Linked DNA regions of Homo sapiens: regions 1, 3 and 4 are each linked to region 2. The links come from fine-mapping of genetic effects on gene expression. A gene starts in region 2. Each other region holds a variant in brackets. All regions are shown on one strand. Distances are from middle to middle.

Region 1 (5,704 bases), 31 kb before region 2:
AAAAAAAGACTGAGATCTAATCATAGGACTCCAGAACACTTCCCTTCCCCAATACCTTCTCACTACATTACTAAAGGCCTATCTACTGCAGTTCTTTTGCACAGTACATTATGTCTACCTTCCAGTGAAAAATTACAAGGCATACTAAAAGGCAAAAACACAGTTTGAAGAGATTCAACAAACATCAGAACCTGCATCAGTTATGGCAGAAATGTTCAGATTATCAGGCCAGGAATTTTAAAAATCTACAATTAACATGCTAAGGGAATTAATGGAAAAAGTAGACAACATGCAAGAAGAGATGGATTATAAGCAGAGAGATGGAAATTCTAAGAAAGGCCTGGGCGTGGTGGCTCATGCCTGTAATCCCAACACTTTGGGAGGCTGAGGTGGGTAGACTGCTTAAACTCAGGAGTTTGAGACCAGCCTGGGTAACATGGTAAAACCCTGCCTCTACATTAAAAAAAAATTTTTTTTAAAAGAAAAAAAAGATATTCTAAGAAATAATTAAAAATAAGTGGTAGATATAAAAAGCACTGTAACAGAAATAAAGAATGCCATTGATGGGCTTATTCGTGGACTGGACATGGCTGAGGAAAGAATCTCTAAGCCTGATGATATGACAATGGAAACTTTCAAAACTGAAATGCAAAGAGAAAAAAGGCTGAAAGAATAGAACAGAATATCCAAGAATTGTGGGACAATTACAAAAGATGTAAATATGCATAATAGAATACCAGAAGGAAAAAAGAGAAAGAAACACAAGCAATATTTGAAGTAATAATGACAGAATTTTCCCCCCAAAAATGTCAGACACCAAACCACAGATCTAGGAAGATAAGGGAATACCATATAGGATAAATGCCAAGAAATGACAAGTAGGCATATCATATCCAAATTTCAGAAAATCAGGCTGGGTGCAGTGGCTCACACCTGTAATCCCAGCACTTTGGGAGGCCAAGGCAAGAGGATCACTAGAGGTCAGAAAGACCAGCCTGGGCAACATAGTGAGATCTTGCTTCTAAAATTAAAAAAAAAAAAAAAAAAAATGGCCGGGCACGGTGGCTCACGCCTGTAATCCCACCACTTTGGGAGGCCGAGGCGGGCGGATCACCTGAGGTCAGAAGTTTGAGACCAGCCTGGCCAACATGGTGAAACCCTGTCTCTACTAAAAATACAAAAAATTAGCCGGGCGTGATGGCAGGTGCCTGTAATCCCAGCTATTTGGGAGGCTGAGGCAGGAGAATCGCTTGAACCCAGGAAGCGGAGGTTGCAGTGAGCCAAGATCACACCATTGCACTCCAGCCTTGGGGACAAGAGTGAGATTTCATCTCAAAACAGAAAAAAAAATTAGCCAGGTGTGGCACATGACAGTAGTCCCAGCTACTCGAGAGGTGGAGGCGGGAGGATCCCTTGAGCCCAGAAGCCTCAAGGCTTCTGAGGTGACAGAGTATGACCTTATCTCTAATAATAATAATAATAATAATAATAATAATAATAATAATAATAATAATTTTTAGAAAAACTTCAGAGAATCAAAGATAAAAAAATACTGAAAAGAAAACAGAGGGAAAAAATATCTTTCCTGCAGAGGAGCAACAATAATAATTACAACCAACTCTGCAGAAACCATGCAAGCAAGAGAGTGGAGAGTAATATACCAAGTATTGAGAGGAAAAAAACACATCAACCTAGAATTCTTTACCCTGAAAAATTATCCTTCATGCATGAAAGGGAAATGAAGACTTTCAGACAAACAAACAGTGAGGGAATTTTTGTCAGTAGATCTGCCTTGTAGGAAACATTAAAAGAAGTTCTTCAGCGGAGCACTTATTTTATTTTATGGAATGAAGTGTTGCCCGATTCTAGAATCACAAATAAAGCCAACTGGGAAAAAATAAAGGTAGTTCTTCAGAGAGGACAAAAATTATGTGTCAGAAACTCAGATTTTTTTTGTTTGTTTTTTTTGAAACGGAGTCTCGCTCTGTTGCCCAGGCTGCAGTGCAGTGGCGCGATCTCCACTCACTGCAAGCTCCATCCCCCAGGTTCATGCCATTCTCCTGCCTCAGCCTCCCAAGTAGCTGGGACTACAGGCACCTGCCAGCACGCCCAGCTACATTTTTTTTGTATTTTTAGTAGAGACGGGGTTTCACCGTGTTCACCAGGATGGTCTCCATCTCCTGACCTCATGATCTGCCCACCTCGGCCTCCCAAAGTGCTGGGATTATAGGCGTGAGCCACCGTGCCTGGCCAGAAACTCAGATTTTACATAAAGAAAGGAGGAGCATGGCCGGGCATGGTGGCTCACACCTGTAACCCCAGCACTCTGGGAGGCTGAGGTGGGTGGATCACCTGAGGTCAGGAGTTTGAGACCAGTCTGGCCAACATGGTGAAACCCTGTCTCTACTAAAAATATAAAAATTAGCCAGGCAGGGTGGCAGGTGCCTGTAGTCCCAGCTATTCAGGAGGCTGAGGCAGAGAATTGCTTGAACCCAAGAGGCAGAGGTTGCAGTAGCAGAGATCACACCACTGCACTACAGCCTGGGTGACAGAGCAAGACTCTCTCTCAAAAGAAAATAAGTAAGTAAATAAATAAATAAAGCCAAAAAAAGGCAGAAAAAGTCTGGCAGACAAAAATAGGAACAAAGAACAAGGAAAACAAATAGAAAATAGTAGCTGGGCGAGGTGGCTCACACCCGTAATTCCAGCACTTTGGGAGGCCAAGGCCGGTAGATCACAAAGTTAGAAGTTCAAGACCAGTCTGGCCAAGATGGTGAAACCCCATCTCTACTAAAAATACAAAAATTAGCCAGGTATGGTGGTGGGCGCCTGTAGTCCCAGCTACTTGGGAGGCTGAGGCAGGAGAATTGCTTGATCCCGGGAGGCGGAGCTTGTAGTGAGCCGAGATCCAGCCACTAGACTCCAGCCTGGGCGACAGAGCAAGACTCTGCCTCAAAAAATAAAAAAAAAAAGAAAAAAAAGAAAGAAAATAGTAATATGGTAGCTGTTAACCCAACTATATAAATAACACTTCATTTATTTAGTTATTTTTTATTTTACTGATTGACTTATTTTTTTGAGATGGAGTCTCACTCTGTCGCCCAGGCTGGAGTGCAGTGGCACAATCTTGGCCCACTGCAACCTCCGCCTCCCAGGTTCAAGCAATTCTCCTGCCTCAGCCTCCTGAGTAGCTGGGATTACAGGAGTGCGCCACCATACCTGGCTAATTTTTGTGTTTTTAGTAGAGACGGGGTTTCACCATGTTGGCCAGGCTGGTCTCAAACTCCTGACCTCAGGTGATCCCCCTGCCTCCACCTCCCAAAGTGCCAGGATTACAGGTGTGAGCCACCGTGCACAGACTATTTAGTTATGTTTTAGAGGCAAGGTCTGGTTCTGTCACTCAGGCTGGAATGCAGTAAAGCAATTATAACTGTCACCTTAAACTCCTGGGCTCAAGCAATCCTCCCAGCTCAGCCTCTCAGGTAGCTGAATCTACAGG[T/G]GCACACTACCACGTCCAGCCAATTTTTAAATTTGTTTTATAGAAAAAGGGTCTCATTTTGTTGCCCACTCTAGTCTCAAACTCCTGATTTCAAGTGATCCTCCTGCCTTGGCCTCCTGAAGTGCTGGAATTACAGGTGTGGGCCACTATGCTGGGCCTCAATAATCACTTTAAATGTCAATGGCCTAAATGCAGCAAATAAAAGATGAGGATTGTTAGAATGGACCAAAAAATAAGACCTAACCGTAGGTTTTCTATAAGAAACTGACTTTAAATATAACCACAAAACAGATTAAATGTAAAGGAATAGAAGTTAACTGGGCATGGTGGTACATGCCTGTGGTCCCAGCTACTCAGGAGGCTGAGGTGTGAGGATTGCCTGAGCCAGGGAGGTTGGGGCTACAGTGAGCTATGATTGCACCACTGCACTCCAACCTGGGTGACAGAGAAAGACCCTGTATCAAAAAAAAAAAAAAAAAAAAAAAAAAAGCTTAAATTCTAGAAAGCTTTAATTCTAGAAAGAAAATTAATTTTAGAAAGAGAAGATTTTAAGTCAGGCACAATGGTGCACACCTGTAGTCCCAGATACTTGGGAGGCTGAGGCAAGAAGATCACTTAAGACACTTCATTCACTATGTGCCCAGGAGTTTGAGTTCAGCCTAGGCACATAGGGAAACCCTGTCTCTAAAAAAGAAAAAAGAAATCATAAAAAGTACTCAATCCAAAAGAAGACAAGAAAAGAAAAGGGAAAAAAGAAACACAAAACAGAAGGAATAAATAGAACATAAACAGCAAGATGGCTAAACAGAACCATATTAATCAATTATACATATCATTAAATATAAATTAACTAAACAGTCAAACTGTTTTTAAACAGCAAGACCCAAGTCATATGATGCACTTTTTTTTTTTTTTTTTTTTGAGATGAAGTCTCACTCTTATTGCCCAGGCTGGAGCACAATGGTGTGATCTCAGCTCACTGCAACCTCTGCCTCCTGGGTTCAAGCAATTCTTCTGCCTCAGCCTCCCGAGTAGCTGGGATTACAGGTGCCTACCACCATGCCTGGCTAATTTTTGTATATTTAGTAGAGACGGGGTTTCACCATGTTGACCAGGCTGGTCTTGAACTTCTGACCTCAGGTGATCCACCCGTCTCAGCCCCCCAAAGTGCTAGGATTACAGGCGTAAGCCACCGTGCCCGGTCCACACTTTCTTACATTTAATAAAATTTATATACATATTTTTATATAAAGACAGAGTTTTGTCATGTTGCCCAAGCTGGTCTTGAACTCCTGAGCTCAAACGATCCACCTTCCTCGGCCTCCCACAGTGCTGGGATTACAGGTGTGAGCCACCACACCCAGCCATGATGCACTTTAAATATAAAGTTACAGGTTGAAAAAAAAAAGGATAAAAAAAGATATAACATGCAAATAGCAAGCATAAGAAAGCTGGTGTGCTATTAAAAGCACACAAAGTCGATTCAAGGCAAGTATTATCAGAGATAAAGATATTAATTTCATAAAGATAAAATGACCAAGGAGACATTAAAATACTAAATGTGAATGCACCTAATAACAAAGACTCAAAATACGTAAAGCAAAATTCACCAAATTAAAGAGAGAAATGAACAGATCTACAATCAGAATTGGAGAGATAGAGTGTAAATGAAATACAGAGTCAAAGAGACAGACGTACAGAGGGAAAGAGAGAGATACAGAGAAACAGAGAGCCAGAGTGAGAGAGACAGAGGCAGCCTAATCCAAAGAGGACAATGAGTCTCAGAGACAGGGAGCATCTGAAAATAAATGACAAGACAGGGAGGGTTAGAAGCTCTGGTTGCAGGGGATGGAGTCACAGGAGGAATCTGGGACTAAGGGATCCTGCAGGGATGAATGCGGGACAGACAGCAACACTTACCCGCTGCCCAGCAGAGCCTTGGGGGCCAGGCTCCCCACGCAGTCCCTGTGTAAGAGGGAGGAGACGAATGGCGTCAGCTGTTGAGGACTCTGACCTGGGGCCCTCAGGACTCCCCAGAATTCCCCCACCTGGGGCCACCTGGGTACTCACTCTCTCGCCCTTCTCTCCTGGGTGGCCAGAGATTCCTTTGGGTCCAGTGGGGCCTGGGGGTCCCTGAGCAACAAGACAGGGCCTCAGCCTTGTGTTGGGGCAGGATGGAGTGGGCAGGGGCTTGGGAACAGAGGT
Region 2 (5,000 bases):
GGATGGGGCCACAAGTGGAGGTTCTGGTAGCCCACAGACTCCTCAAGCTCCAGGTCCCTACCCCCATGTGACATGATTGATAGCAGGAACCACTGCAGGTGAGGCCCGGTGCTGGTCCTTCCCACGAGGAAAGAAGGAAACTGAGAGCAAAACTGAGACCCATGGCCAGGAAGTGACCCACTTGAGGTCACACATCAAGCCTGTAAGAGCAAGGAATTCTGTCTCCATTCTGTCCAAGGCTGGAGCCCCTAACTCCTAATCATGACTGCAAACCTTTCCTGGTGCCCCCAAGCCGACAACCTCTTTCCCTCTTCCAGCAAGGCTGCTGGAGAGAAAAAGCCACTGGATTTGGAAATCGACTGGTCTGGACTGAGGTGCCACTTGTCCTCTGTAGGCCTCAGCCTCCGTATCTGTACAATGGGTGCAATAGTGTTGCCCACAGGGTTTTTGGGATGCTCAGGCTACTGTGATAGGCTTCTGTCAACACATGGAGTGACAGTCCCCAGTGACCACCAGATACCTGGTTATAGCCATCATCCTGTTCCCACCCAGGAGACCCTGGGAGGTGAGGAGCCCAGGCTGGGAAGCCCTGCCTTGAACTGGCTGCAGGGCGGTCTGGGCCTTAAGCTGTCGCCACCATCATCCTGAGCCTAACAGTGGGATTTCTGAGTTCATAGTCTCTGTCCTCTTAGCATCTGGGATCCTGGCGGCTCACTTCCATGCTCTGGGCAGGTCATGTTCCCTCTCTGAGCCTCATCTTCCTCCTCTATGAAACAGAATCATAAAGAGCATACCTCCAAGCAGCTGGGAGGATTCTGGAGCTGATGAATGCAGGTAACGGAGCCGACTCAGGCTAACTGTTGTCTGCACACAATAGGTGGTGGCTGTAACATCTGCCACACGTCCACCCCTGTCTCAGACAACTGCTCTTCTGGCCTCTGATGCTTCAACCACCTCCGTCCTCCAGCCCTGCCCATGTCAACTGCTCTTGCTAGCCCAGCAGGGGCATGCTGGCCCCTGACCACTGGGAAAGGAGAATTTCTGAAAAGAATTAAAGAATTGAGGCCGTAGGGGGTGGGGGCCGCGCAGGCCTTTGAATGGGATGAAAAGGCCTGGAGAGGCCTGGCTACTCCACATTGTCTGCCTTGGACAACGGCGGCTGGCCTTTAGGAGGGGACCCTCGCTGGGGCTGCAGCCAGGACAGAGGCCAGGACAGGTTCAAACACTGTCATCAAGGATAGAAGGGCAGATTTGCAACCTAGCTCTTCAGTGAATAGCCCATGAGGCTAAAAGATGATGCCAATTCCCTAGGGTCTCAGTTTGCTTAACCGTTGAATGGGGACAGTTTTCCCTACCTCATTCGGTCCTTCAAGGATTGATGAGGACACTATATATAATAATGGGCCCCACCATGTCAGGTTCTGGGAGCTCCTCCGTAAAGGCCAGCAGGGAGGAGGTTCCCCGCCGCTAGGAGAGCAGAAGGAAGACTGTGCTCCCTCTTTTCTCTGTCCAAAATGCCAGGTCCCTGGGGTATCTCCGACACTGACCCACTGGGCTGTGAGACTCCACCCCAGTCCCTCCTCCGAGGGAGATAAATAGCCTGGGTACAAAACAAACAAACAAAAAACAAAACAAAGCAAAAAAACAGGAACAGGGAAAAGGGGAGAGAGGGTCCGAGAAGAGTCGGCTAGGGGGTGTCATAGGCCTTTCCCAAGTGCAGGGGGAGGGGCCCTAGGGACAGGGGAACAGAAGGGCCAGGGCTTCGCCCTCGTTGCGCCCCTTCCCCCTCCTCTCGAGCTCCTGGGTTGAAAGGGAGGGAGTAGGGGAGGCAGCCAGCTCCGACACATGGAGTAGGGGACCCCGCACTCGCGGGAGCCTCAGCCGGACCGCGGGATGGCCGTGTCCCTGCCCTCACCCGGGCTGGGGACTGGATCGCCCTCCAATCCCAGCCCTTCCTGGAGGTGGGGGCGTGTGCGCGCCGGGACCCTCGGCCAGCGGGGTGCAAAGGCGCCGGGAGCTCTTACCTGCGTCCGGAGAACGGAGCTGCCCCGATGCTCCACGCAGCGCCGCCTCCCGGGAGCAGGAGCCCGAGGCAGAGCAGCGCCCAAGCCCGCGGGCCGCCCATGCTGCACCAGGCGCCCTCCGCGCGCGGCCCCTCGCGGTCGCCGCCCCCAGCCTGTCCTCCCCGCCTGCCTGCCCGCGCCGCCAGCCGCCCCGGACGCGCGGAGCCCGGTTTCCAGCTCCGCGGCCGGAGGGCGGGCAGGAGGCGGGCGGGCGGGGGCGGGGGCGCGCGCTCCCGGCCTCGCCCGGCCCCTCTGCGCTGCCCCCCGCCCCCTGCGCCGCCGCTGCCAACCCGGAAGGAGCCCGGAGGGGCCCGGGCGGCCAGGGCGCCCCCGCCAGGAGGCCCGCCAGGTGTCCACCTGAGCCCCACGCCCTGCGCCGCGGGGCCCTTTTGGGGGCGGGGTGCCAGCTCCGAGGTGTCCTCCCACGGGCTGTAGACTGGGAAACTGAGGCCCGGGCCACGGTCCCAGACGCAGCCGGGACCCGAACCCACCTCACCTGAGCGAATGATATCCGGGACTCATCCTTTTTCGACACCTTTGCGGGATCCAGCCCTCCAAGGAAAGCTTCCTGAGCAGTGCGCGCCACGTGTATTGGGCACCTCACCGCGGCCACTTCACATCCTATCTCAGGTGACTCTTCAAGCCACTCTGCTCGAACTGGGCACAATATCCCCATTTTACAGAAGAGAAAACTGAGGCCCAGGCACTCGCAGTCTCCCTAGGAGGAGATCTGGGCTGACCCCATAAGTGCAGAGTCTGTTCTTATTCTCATTTTACAGGTGGAGAAACTAAGCCACAGAAAGGAGCTGTCATTTACCTAAAGCACCGTGGCAGGGGTTTGGCAGAGCCAGGATTTGTACCCAGATCGCCTGACTTCGGAGAGTAACAGCTCTTAACCACAGCACTTCGGTCTATGCCTTGATTTCACCATATGTAACAAGGTAAGAATTGGTGTTGGGTGGTTTCATCTGGGGTACATGGATGGGCTTCTGGAGGAATGGCTCTACATCCCACAAAGGTATATGTAAGCGTAGTGTGTGTGTGCAGGGGTGCATGTGTGTGTCGTATGTGTGTATGATGGATGTGTGTGCATGCTTGATGTGGATTTATGTGCATGTGTGTTATGTGTGTGTCTGTGATAGGAGTGTGTGTTTATAGGGAGAGACCAGAGCTCTCATCAGAGGGGACCCAGACCCCCAATCTCCCAGGGCAGTCTCTAACCCCGCCTTCTGCCTGGATCGATGGGCAGTAGTTAGGCCTGGGCTGGGGAAGCCCTTGCCCAGCTTGGCTACTTCCTGTTATGGCTTGTCCAGACCCACGGTCCCTTCTAGAAACACTCCCCAGAAAGGATCTGCCAGTCACTGGATTGCCCCTCCTGGACTCACCAGGGGCAGGCAGCATAGGCCACCATAGGCAGGCAGGCAGGCAGGACGGGGGATCCATCACCAGTGTGTCCACATAGAGAAAGCTGTTGCCCTGTCCCAAGGGACAGGTAGTGAGAGCTGGGTTCAAACCCTGCCTCTGCTACTTCTGCTCCAGTTAGCTCAGGCAAGTCTTGCCCCTCTCGCAGCCTCAGTGTTTCTTTTGCAGGGAGGACAGTTGTACATTCGTTACAGGAGTGTGGGAAGGATTGAGATATCATGGTAATGGCCTGTCACCCACTCTCCCCTACTTCACATAGTCCCCCAAGGGCTCCCTCTCCCTCCAGCGACATCACCATGGTGCCAATGTTGCCCCCTTGGGGAGCTGTTGCCCTCCTTTTCACGTGAAATTTTGGCACATCTCCTGTGCCATCTCTCTGACCTCCAAGAAATGCAGCTTTGTACCTCTCTGGTTAGCCCTTGTTTTTGACACAGCTAGATCAGTGACTTAACACCCTGGATAATTCGTCACTCCTGAGGAGCCATGCCCCCAAGAGGATGCCAGGCCTGTCTGAAACCCCAATCAAGCGGCCCAGATAAAAACCCATCACCCCAGGGGTGCTTTGAGCTGTTTAGGAAGCTCAAACATGCAGCTGTTTAGGAAGGAGAAGCACTGGATAATGCCTTGGAGGGACTGAGAGGTGTCTAGGGTGTCAGATGGGTGCCACAGAATGAGGAGGCACTACTAGGTCTGTTTGCAACATGTCTGAGATGCTCCTGCGATTAATGGCATCCACATTTCTTAACCAATGCCATCAAACTTGTGGCAGACTCAGGCCGCTGCAGAATTTCCCCAGCAAGAGACTCTCCTGGTAAAAGCTGTTATCAACATTTTCACATCAGAGAGGGGCCTGTCCTTACTGAGGCTGGGATTCCCGGGTCCAGGGTATTTATTTATCACTGTAGACCCGGATAAATAAATATAGATTTATTTATCACTATTTATCACCTTGTGGCTGTGTGGCCTGATGGATACACCCCACAAGCCATGTGACCCATAGGCCAGGGTGTCAATTCCAGAGCAACCTCTGGGAGCTGTGTGACCCAAGACAAGTCACTTCCCCTCTCTGAGCTTCATTTCTTTGCCTGAAAAAACAAGCCATGGGATCTTCTTTTTTTTTTTTTTTTTTTTTTTTTGAGACAGGGTCTCACACTGTCACCCAGGCTGGAGTGCAGTGGTGCCATTTCCGCTCACTGCAGCCTCAACCTCCTGGGCTCAAGCGATTCTCCTGCCTCAGCCTCCTGATTAGCTAGGACTACAGGTGTATGACAGCACATCTGGCTCATTTTTAATATTTTTTGTAGACACAGGGTCTTGCTCTGTTGCTCAGGCTGGTCTCGAACTCCTGGCTTCAAGCAACCCTCCCACATAGGACTTTTAAGGTCCCTCTGGCTCAAGAGTCTGAGCTTCTGGGAAAGTGTGAAAACGTCAGGTCTCCCCTTCAGTGGCCCTGGGGCACAGCTGAAGCCCCCGTTTAAGGGCTCACTTTCCTGTTGGATGACAGCCGGCTTTCTG
Region 3 (5,000 bases), 40 kb before region 2:
ATTGTTATTTTAGAGTGTACTCCTTCTACTTATTTAAAAAACAGTTAAGCTGTAAAACAGCCTCAGGCAGGTTCTTCAGGAGGTATTCCAGAAGAAGGCATTGTTATCATAGGAGATGACAGCTCTATGCATGTTACTGCCCAGAACTTCCAGTGGGACAAGAGGTGGACATGGAGACAGTGATACTGATGATCCTGACCCTGTGTAGGCCTAGGCTAATGTATGTGTTTGTGTCTTAGTTTTTAGCAAAAACATTTAAAAAGTGAAAAAAAAAAAAAAAAAAAAAGGGCCAGGCACAGTGTCTCACACCTGGAATCCTAGCACTTTGGGAGACCGAAGCAGGCGGATCACTTGAAGTCAGGAGTTTGAGACCAGCCTGGCCAGCCAACATGGTGAAACCCCATCTCTACTAAAAATACAAAAAAATTAGCTGGGCATCGTGGCGTTCACCTGTAGTCCCAGCTACTTGGGAGGCTGAGGCAATGAGAATCGCTTGAACCCAGGAGGCGGAGGTTGCAGTGAGCCGAGATCAAGCCACTGTACTCCACTGTACTTTTCTTGAGACATAGCAAGACTCTGTCTCAAAAAAAAAAAAAAGTAAAAAAAAAATTAATTTCACCAGCGCGGTGGCTCACGCCTGTAATTCCAGCACTTTGGGAGGCTGAGGTGGGCGGATCACTTGAGGTCAGGAGTTTGAGACCAGCCTGGCCAACATGGTGAAACCCCGTCTCTACTAAAAATACAAAAAATTAGCTGGGCGTGGTGGCTCATGCTTGTAATCCCAGCTACCCAGGAGGCTGAGGCAAGAGAATCGCTTGAACCTGGAGATGGAGGTTGCAGTGAGCCGAAATCACACCACTGCACTCCACCCTGGGCGACAGAGCAAGATTTTGTCCTAAACAAACAAACAAAAAAGCTCCAAAAATCTTTTATGGTGTATTTTTGCTGTACCTTTTCTATGTTTAGATACACAAATACTTACGACTGTGTTGCAGTTGCCTGCAATATTTAGCGTAGTAACGTGCTGTTTAGGTTTGTAGCCTGGGAGCAATTGGCTACACCATACAGCTGAGGTGTGTTGTAGGCTATCCCATCTAGGTTTGTGTATGTACACTGTATGATGCTCATGCCACAACAAAATCACCTAATGGCATATTTTCCAGGACATATCCCCATCATTAAGTGACACATGGCTGTACCAATAATTGGTCCATCTACAGGAAGGGCAGAATGACATTCATTGTACCAACTTTTCTGTATATCAAAATGCAAAATAGCTGGGTGCAGTGGTTCACACCTGTAATCCTAGCACTTTGGGAGGCTGAGGCGGGTGGATCACGTGAGGCCTGGAGTTCAAGACCAGCCTGGCCAACATGGCGCAAACCCATCTCTACTAAAAATACAAAAATTAGCCAGGCATGGCTACAGAGTCCCAGCTACTTAGGTGGCTGAGGCACGAGAATTGCTTGAACCCAGGAGGCAGAGGTTGCAGTGAGCTGTGATTGAGCTGTTGCACTCCAGCCTGGGCGATAGAGACTCTGTCTCAATAAAAAAGGAAAAAAACAAAATAAAAATAAACAAAAATATTGGGGAGGCCAGGTGCAGTGGCTCACACTTGTAATCCCAACACCTTGGGAGGCTGAGGTAGGAGGATCACTTGAGGCCAGGAATTTGAGACCAGCCTGGGACACATTGTGAGTTCTTGTCTGTATTTTTTAAAACATAAAATTAAAAAGAAAAATATGGGGAAAAGTGTTTTTAAAATCCACTGTTTGGAACTCCCTCAGACCAGGTGGCCTGATGTTTGCACTGATGACAACCCAGTCTCCTTCAGCCTGGCCTGCCCTCTGCACTCCGGATCTAAGTGTCTGGGCCTGCTGGACAACCCTACTTGGCTGTAACACAGACTCCTCCCGTTGGTCCACAGACAAAACTCAGCCTGCTTGCTTCTCCTGGTTCTCTTTTGCTATTTTAAGTCTCCCTTGACTCCTCACTCCCTTTTGCAGCCAGACCAGCACACAAGTGTCTTTTTGCTCCATCGACGGCTGTCTGTCCTCACTGGCTCCCACCCACTGCCCGGCTCAGTCTCTCACCAGGATGACCACGACAGCCCCCGACCTACTGTCTTTCTGCTTCTCCCATCCATTCGCCATGGCAATCAGAGGGATTCTTTGCAAATAAAAAAAACCTGACCGCATCACTCTGCTGCTTCTAGAGCCTTCAATGCCTCCCCACTGCCCTAGAACAAAGTCCAAATTCCTGAACGTGGCCTCCTACACCCTGAAGGCCTCTTTGGCCTCTGTTCCACTCTCTACCTGTCACAGTGCCACTCCAAGTATTTGCAGCTCCTCAAATATCCGAGGCTCCCTCTTGCCACAGGGCCTTTGCACCTGTTGTACCCTCGCCTCTGCCTGGACACTCCGTGCCTGGTTAATGCACCTTTCAGGCTTCACCTGGCTCCTCCGGGAGGATGCTAAAGTGTAAAGTGTTTATAAAGTTGACAGTCCTGTAGCTGCTGATTATAGGTCTTTTTTCCCTCACCTCACTGTGACCACCCTGAGGGTGGGGACTGTGTCTGAATTGCATCTGTGTAAACAGTGCCCAGCTCCAGGTCTGGTGCCTATGGAGGAGATGCTTGGGGAATGGTAGCTGGTTCTCTGGCCCTAGGAACTTAAAAGTCAGGGCTCCAGTTCCCGCTCTGCCAAGGATTCTCTCTGCCGAGTCGGGCCTCAGTTTCCCTGTCTGAATAAGGGGTGAGAGCTTTGATCCAGGTGGGCAGGCCCAGCACAGTCACT[C/T]CAGTTCCTGCAGTGCACTATCATGACCACCAGGTGTCACTGCTGGGCCACAGCCAGAACGCATCTGCAAGCTGCACTAAGGGAGTTGGTTGGTGAAGTGTACATAGGAGCCCTCGGGGACCTTGCCAGCACTGAACCTCATTCCCACCTGTCCCCAACAGAGCTGTTCCCCCAGCCCCCAAAGCTTCATGCAGCCCCCAGCCCAGTGGGTCCCCTCCCAGGCAAGCAGCAAGCAGGGGCAGAAGTGCAGGTAGAAGAGGGGCAGGAAGGTGGGTGGGCAGGGGCCCTGCTACCTCTTGCGGGGAGCCCACAGGTGGTTCTGGGTTCAAGGACTGGTCTAGGGTGGCCAGGGCATCCTGCCGGGGATTCTCATGAAGGGACAGGACTGCCCAATCTCTCCCACCCCTCCTGGACTGGGTGGTAAATGTGTTCCCAGACCAAGGGCCTCTGGGAGAGGCCAGTAATTAGCCTAGGGGAGGCAGAGAGCCAGGCTTGCATGGGTCTATCTGATCCCAGCTCAGCTCATGTCCATACTGGCAGTATTAAGAGACTCTGGAGCTACGGAGGATGGGTATGGGGTAGGAGGAGATTCAGGACAGCAGGGGCCAGGAGAGGCTAACTGGAGAGGTAGCAGGGCACCAGAAGTCATGGGCAGACACAGGGGAAGACTCGTGCAGGGTAGGGGGCTCCCACGGCTGTATCCATCACTGACCCCACAATCAAGAACTAAGAGGGCAAGGCAGGCACTGGGTGCCACCCACATCCTCACTAACTTGTGACTGCCAGGAAGTAGGGTGTCCCAGCCAGACTGCATGTGGAGGGGGAGTCACAATCCCCCCCACCGCCAAAAAGAGCTTCCTAGTTGTCTCTCTCTCCTGAAGGAGTGTCTGCCTCCACTCTGTCCATTTTCCAGATGTCTCCCCTGTCAGTGATGGTTTCCAGATCCCTGTGTCGTGGGGCTTTTGGGTATGGTATGTTTTAGGGTCCTCGTCTTTCCCCCACGTCTCTTGGGTGAGTAGATTTCTAGGTCCTAACCCGAAAATCCCTCCCCTGCAATGATTTTCAATGATTGTGAAGGTTTCTATTTTCTTTTCTTTTCTTTTTTTTTTTTTGAGACAGAGTCTCGTTCCGTCGCCCAGGCTGGAGTGCAGTGGCGCGATCTCTGCTCACTGCAACCTCTGCCTCCTGGGTTCAAGCGATTCCCCTGCCTCAGCCTCCTGAATAGCTAGGACTACAGGTGCGTACCACCATGTCCAGCTAATTTTTGTATTTTTAGCCCAAACCTTTAAGGCTAATTTTGTATTTTTGTATTTTTTTGTATTTTAGAGATGGGGGTTTTGCCATGTTGGCCAGGCTGGTCTCAAACTCCTGACCTCAAGTTATCTACCCGCCTCGGCCTCCAAGAGTGCTGGGATTACAGGTAGGAGCCACGGCATCCCGGACGATTGTGAAGGTTTCTAGGACCCCACATTAATCATGAGATTTTGCGGTGTGTGGTTTCTAGTTCCCCCTTCTTGTCCCCTTCTCATTTACTCTGTCTCCTGTATATGTGAGAGTTTCTAGGCTTCCCTTCTCATCCATCATGGGTCTCCTATGTATGTGATGGTGTCTAGGACCTTGTGTAAACTATAGGTCCTTTAAGTATAGAGGAGTCTAGGTCACCTGGCCTCATTAACCACATCAAACGTGTACATAGCAGTTTCGAGGCGTCTCTTCACAGGCTTCATGAATTTCCGATGTGTATGGTGGTATCTAGTTCCCTGTCCTTTTTACCACGTGGCTCCTATGTACCTCATCATTTCTAGGCCCCTTTCCTAGGTCCTCTATCCCATTCTCCTGTGTAGATATTGTCTTCATTCTTCCCTTTGTTCTGCAGACAAGGGAGCAAGCTAAGCCTTGGCTGGGAGGGGGCTATGGAGGCAGGGGATGCAGTCTGGCCTGGGTCAGCCCAAACCACCCAGGAGGAAAAGGCAGAGCCACCCTGGCCTGGAAAGGCCACAGAGGGAAGGTGGAGACAGGGACAGAGACTGAGACAGAAGGCATGGGGTCTGCTGATAGGGCTGGCCCTGCCCGGTTGGGAGCAACAAGATGGGGGAAGGAGTTGGGGCTGATAATTGCCAAGGCTCCTGCCTGGGAGACCAGGCTGTAGTGGGGATGTGGATGGGATGCTCCCACTCCCAGGGCCTCCTGGGGAGGGAATACTCT
Region 4 (5,796 bases), 25 kb after region 2:
TGCCTTGGCCTCCCAAAGTGCTGGGATTACAGGTGTGAGCCACCGCGCCTGGCCTTTTTATTAGTATTATTATTTTGAGACAAGTTCTCACTCTGTTGTTCAGGCTGCAGTGCAGTGGCATGATCACAGCTCACTGCAGCTTGGAACTCCTGGGTTTAAGTGATCCCCCTGCCTCAGCCTCCTGTGTAACTGGGATTACAGGAGTGTACCACCATGCCCAGCTAATTTTTTTTTTTTTTAATAGGGACAAGAGCTTGCCGTGTTGCCCCAGGCTGGTCTCAAACTCCTAGCCTCAAGCAAACTTCCTGTCTCGGCCTTTCAAAACCCTGAGATTACAAGCATAAGAAAAGAAAATCTTGTAAGATGAAAGCTGAAGGATGAGAGCAATTAATTGATGAAGTATGATGATCCAGGTGTCCCTGGGTGAAGAAACAACCTCTACAAAGGCCCTGAGGTAGGAATATGCCATTATAGGACCTAGGAGCTGTTCTCAGGGAGCTGACGGTGATTGAGGCTCATGGAACAAGAAAAGAAAAATCATCATCACCATTGTCACTATCACTACCATAGTCAGATGAAGGTGAAGTCTTACAAATACTTCATATGGGGCCAGGTGTGGTGGTGTGTGCCTGTAATCCCAGCACTTTGGGAAACCAAGGTGGGAGGATTGCTTGAGACCAGGAGTTTGAGACTGGCCTGGGCAACATAGCGAGATTCTATCTCTGCAATTTTTTTTTTTAATTAGTGTGACGTGTTAGTATGCGCTTATAGTCACAACTACTCAGGAGGGTGAGGTGGGAGGATTGCCTAAGCCCAGGAGTTTGAGGCTGCAGTGAGCTATAATTGCACCACTGCACCCAGCCTGGGCAACAGAGTGAGACCCTGTCTCAAAAACAAAAGAAACAAAAAGCCTCATGTAGGATCATATACACCAGGCCCTGTACATATTCCCAGGAGAATCTGAGCACCATTTAGGGCCCCAAAGGGATCATCTTGGGTGCAGACTGGGAGGCAGGAGACAGCCAGGTAAGGACATAGGCTCTGGGTCAGATGACCTGGCTTTGCATCCTGACTCCCCTCTTAAGGCAGGAGAGAAGGCTCCCCTCCCCTCCCCGTCTCACTCTGCCACCCAGGCTGAAGTGCAATGGTGCAATCATGGCTCACTGCAGTCTCGACCTCCCAGGCTCAAGTGATCCTTTGGACCACAGGCATGTGTCACCGTGCCTGGCTAGTTTGTTGTTGTTGTTGTTGTTGTTTGTATTTTTAGTAGAGATGGGGTTTCCCCATGTTGCCCAGGCTGGTCTCGAACTCCTGGGCTCAGCAGTCCACCCACCCCTGCCTCCCAAAGTGCTGGGATTACAGGTGTGAGCCACCGTGCCTGGCCTGTAGTTACAATAAACTACAGAGTGTAAAATTTCACCAGTTTGACATGTCTTCACCTGGGAAATCATCTCCACAATCAAGACAGTGAATCTATCCACCACCCCCAAAAGTTTTCTCATTCCCCTTGGTCACCCACCTCTCTCCTGATTCCCAGGCAAACACTGATCTGCTTTCTGTCACTATAGATTATTTTGCATTTTCTAGGATTTTTCTTCTTTTTAAGAGACAGGGTCTCACTCTGTTACCCAGGCTGGAGTGTAGTGGCATGATCATAGCTCACTGCAGCCTTGAACTCTCAGGCTCAAGCGATCCTCCCACCCCAGCCTCCCAAAGTAGCTGGGAAGACAGATGCACACTGCCACACTTGGCTAATTTTTATTTTTTATTTTTTGTAGAGATGGGGTCTCCCTATGCTTCCCAGGCTGGTCTCGAACTCCTGGACTCAAGCAATCCTCCTGTCTTGACCTCCCAAAGTGCTGGGATTACAGGCGTGAGCCGCCTCACCTGGCCTATAGAATTTTATACAAATGAAATCATACTGTATGTACTCTTTTTTGGTCTGGCTTCTTTTATGCAACATAATAATTTAAGCTTCACCCATGTCATTGTGCATATTACTAGTTCATTTCTTTTTCCTGCTAGGTATGTTTCACAACTTGTTTGTCCACTCACCTGTTGATGGACATTAAGTTGGTTACCAGTTTGGGGCTATTATAAATAATGCTGCTATGAACATTTGCATACACATTTTTGTATTGCCATATGTGTTCATTTATCTTGGTTAGATACCTAGGAGTGGACCTGCTGGGTCTCAAGGTAATTGTATGTGAAGTATGAGAGAAACTGCCAAGCTGTTTTTCTTTTCCTTCTTTTTTTTTTGAGATGGAGTCTCGCCCTGTCGCCCAGGCTAAAGTGCAATGTTACAATCTCGGCTCACTGCAACCTCTGCCTCCTGGGTTCAAACAATTCTCCTGTCTCAGCCTCCTGAGTAACTGGAATTATAGGCATGCAACACCACACCTGGCTAATTTTTGTATTTTTAGTAGAGATGGGGTTTGGCCATGTTGGTCAGGCTGGTCTCGAACTCCTGACTTCGTGTGATCCACCTGCCTCAGCTTCCC[A/C]AAGTGCTGGGATTACAGGCATGCACCACTGCGCACAGCCCAAGCTGTTTTTCAAAGTGATTGTAAAACAGTACCTAAAAGCTCCAGTTGCTCCACAACGTCACCAACCCTTGGTATTGCCAGTTATTCAAATTTAAGCCATTCTAATAGATGCGTAGTAGTCTCGCTGTGATTTTAATTGGCATTTCCCTAATGATTGATGCTATGGAGCATCTTTTCACCTGCTTATTTGTCATCCGTACGTGTTTTTTTGATCAAGTGTCTGTTTCAATTATTTGTTCCCCATGGGCACTCTTAAAAATTCTTTGTTTTCGTATTATTGAGCGTTGAGAGTTCTTTATATATTCTGGATATGAGTCTTTTTTAAATCAGATATGTGATTTACGAATATCTTCTTTCAATCTGTGACTTGTCTTTTTATTCTCTTAACAGTGTCTTTCTTTTTCTTTTTGAGACAGGGTCTCGCTCATCACCAGGCTGGAGTACAGTGACATGATCATGGCTCACTGCAGCCTCAACCTCCCGGGTTCAGGCTATCCTCCCACCTCAGCCTCCCAGGACCACAGGCGTGTGCCACCATGCCCAGCTAATTTTTTGTAGAGATGGGGTTATGCCATGTTGCCCAGGCTGGTCTCGAGCTGCTGGGCACAAGCAATCTACCCATCTCAGTCTCCCAAAGTGCTGGCATTATAGTCGTGAGCCACTGTGCCCAGCCAACAGCGTCTTTCAAAGAGCAGAGAGAGGTTAATTTTGATGATGTCCAGTTTGCACCTTTGTTGAAAATTGACCATATATCTGTGAGTCTGTTTCTAGACTCTTTGTTCTGCTTTATTAAACTACTTGTCTATTTGTACACCAATGCCACACTGTCTTCATTGCTGTGCCTTTGTAATAAGTTTTAAAGTTAGGTCATTTAAGTCCTTTAATTTTGTTCCTCTTTTTCAAAGTTGTTTTGACTATTCTAAGCTTTTGCATTTCCAATACATTTTGTAATCAGCTTGTAAATTTCTACCAAAAAAGCCTGCTGAGACTTTGACTGAAATTATGTTGAGTTTGTAGATTAATTTGGGAAGAATTGACATATTGACAGTATCGAGTCTCTCAACCCATGAACATGGTATACCTCTCCATTTATTTAGACCTTTAGAGCTTTTTCTCAGAAACATTTTGTAGCTTTTTTTTTTTTTTTTTGAGACGGAGTCTTGCCCTGTCACCCAGGCTGGAGTGCAGTGGCACGATTTTGGCTCACTATAACCTCTGCCTCCCGGGTTCACGCGGTTCTCCTGCCTCAGCCTCCCAGGTTCACGCGGTTCTCCTGCCTCAGCCTCCTGAGTAGCTGGGATTACAGGCAGGCGCCACCATGCCCGGCTAATTTTTGTATTTTTAGTGGAGACGGGGTTTCACCATCTTGGCCAGGATGGTCTCGATCTCTTGACCTCGTGATCCGCCCGCCTCAGCCTCCCAAAGTGCTGGGATTACAGGCATGAGCCACCACGCCCAGCTTGTTTTGTAGCTTTAATTGTATAGGCCTAACATACTTTTTTGTTCTGTTTAGTCTATTTCATATTTTTATGCTACCGTAAATAGTATTTTTTAAAATTTCAATGTCCAGGTGTTTTTTGCTAGTAATATATTTTTTATGTTGATCTTGTATCTTTCAACCTTATTATACTCATTTATTAGTTCCAGCAGCTTTTTTGCAAATTCCATCAGATTTTTAACTTAGATGAACATTTTTTTTTTTGCAAATAAAGGCAACTTTTCTTCTTTATATCAAATCTGAATTTTTTTTATTTCCTTTTCTTGTCTGATTATATGGGCTAGAATCTCCAATACAATGTTGAATAGAAGTGGTGAGAGTAGACAGACCTGTCTTGTTCATGATCTTAGGGGAAAAACATTAATGAACCCTAATGTTCATTATAGGGTTTTGTTTGGTAGATGCCTTTTATTAGGTAAGAAGATTCCCTTCTATTCCTGGCTTGCTTAATTTTTTTTTTAACAATCAGGAACGAATCTTGGATTTTGCCAAATGTTTTTTCTGCCTTTAATGAAATGATCTGATCATTTTAATTGTTTAGTCTGTTAATACAGTGAATTACACTGATTGATTTTCCAGTGTTAAAGCCACTTTGCAGTCCTAGGAGAAATCCCACTGGTTGTGATGTACAGTTGTCTTCCCTTATCCATGGGGGATGTGTTCCAAGACCCCTAGTGAATGCCTGAAACCTCAGATAGTACCAAACCCTATATACACTATGTTTTTTCCTGTACAGACATACCTATGATAAAGCCTAATTTATAAATTAGGCACAGTAAGATATTAACAATAACTAATAATAAAATAGAACAATTATAACAATATACTGTAATAAAAGTTATATGAATGTGGTCTCTCTCTGTTTTCTTTTACTATACTATGGGTAGCCAAAACCGTAAGAAGTGAAACTCCAGATAAAGGGGGACTACTGTATTATTTATTAATAAATAGTCATGAGTCACTTAACGATGGGGATATGTTCTGAGAAATGTGATTTGATTTGATTTCATCATTGTGTGAACATGACAGAGTGCACTCACGCGAACCTAGCTGAGATAGCCTACTACACACCTAGGCTATGTGGTGTAGCCTATTTCCCCTAGGCTACAAATCTGTACAGCATGTGACTGTACTGAATACCATAGGTAACTGTATCACAGTGGTATTTGTGCATCAAAACGTAGAAAAGGTACAGTAAAAATACAGTATTATAATTTTTTTTTTTTTGAGACAGGATCTTACTCTGTTGCCCAGGCTGGAGTGCAGTGGCACGATCTCAGCTCACTGCAACCTCCGCCTCCTGGGCTCAAGCCATCCTCTCATCTCAGCCTCCCATGTAGCTGGGACCACAAGCACAAGCCACTATGCCTGGCTAATTTTAAAAAATTTTTTTGTAGAGATGGGGTTTTGCCATGTTGCCCAGGCTGGTCTTGAACTCCTGGGCTCAAGCTACCCACCTGCCCTGGCCTCCCAAAGTGCTGGGATTACAGGCATAAGCCACTGCACCTGCCCCAGAATTATAATCTTATGGGATCACTATTGTATATGTGGTCCATCATTGACGGAAATGTCATTATGTAGCAAATGACTATTACATATTCAGAGACAACTTCTGGTATAGTGGTGTGAGGAGCTCCACCTACCCTCTGCCCAGAGAAATAACTATAACTGGTAAATATTATATGAAAAAACAACCATTTAAAGTCTCTGGAAATTGTCCTGAGGTCACACAGCAAATGAAACATTTATTCA

The links. PIP is the estimated chance that this variant, and not a neighbour inherited with it, causes the effect.
Region 1: its variant is the best candidate, but not a certain one, in a credible set for the expression of EMID1 in spleen (GTEx, PIP 0.87).
Region 3: its variant is the best candidate, but not a certain one, in a credible set for the expression of EMID1 in stomach (GTEx, PIP 0.84).
Region 4: its variant is the best candidate, but not a certain one, in a credible set for the expression of EMID1 in whole blood (TOPMed, PIP 0.63).

Annotation. Positions count from the first base shown.
Region 1 is chr22:29,234,065-29,239,768 of GRCh38, reverse strand. EMID1 (EMI domain containing 1) reads right to left here. Exons shown (of 15, transcript NM_133455.4): 11 at 5,570-5,632; 12 at 5,420-5,464. Among named protein-coding and RNA genes, the nearest start is that of EMID1, 31 kb to the right of the region's middle. RefSeq lists enhancers at 5,123-5,623, 5,624-5,704. The variant T/G (reference allele first, on the strand shown) is at 3,500.
Region 2 is chr22:29,203,164-29,208,163 of GRCh38, reverse strand. It overlaps EMID1 (EMI domain containing 1), which reads right to left and starts at 2,268. Exons shown (of 15, transcript NM_133455.4): 1 at 2,025-2,268. The coding sequence starts at 2,125. LOC101929638 (a long non-coding RNA gene) reads left to right here and starts at 2,332. Exons shown (of 5, transcript XR_938134.3): 1 at 2,332-2,693; 2 at 2,843-3,004. RefSeq lists silencers at 1,834-1,893, 1,914-2,073, 2,084-2,173.
Region 3 is chr22:29,243,546-29,248,545 of GRCh38, reverse strand. All of the region lies in intron 13 of EMID1 (EMI domain containing 1), which reads right to left. Among named protein-coding and RNA genes, the nearest start is that of RHBDD3, 22 kb to the left of the region's middle. The variant C/T (reference allele first, on the strand shown) is at 2,796.
Region 4 is chr22:29,177,830-29,183,625 of GRCh38, reverse strand. It overlaps LOC101929638 (a long non-coding RNA gene), which reads left to right. Exons shown (of 5, transcript XR_938134.3): 4 at 245-454; 5 at 2,963-3,363. Among named protein-coding and RNA genes, the nearest start is that of EMID1, 25 kb to the left of the region's middle. The variant A/C (reference allele first, on the strand shown) is at 2,505.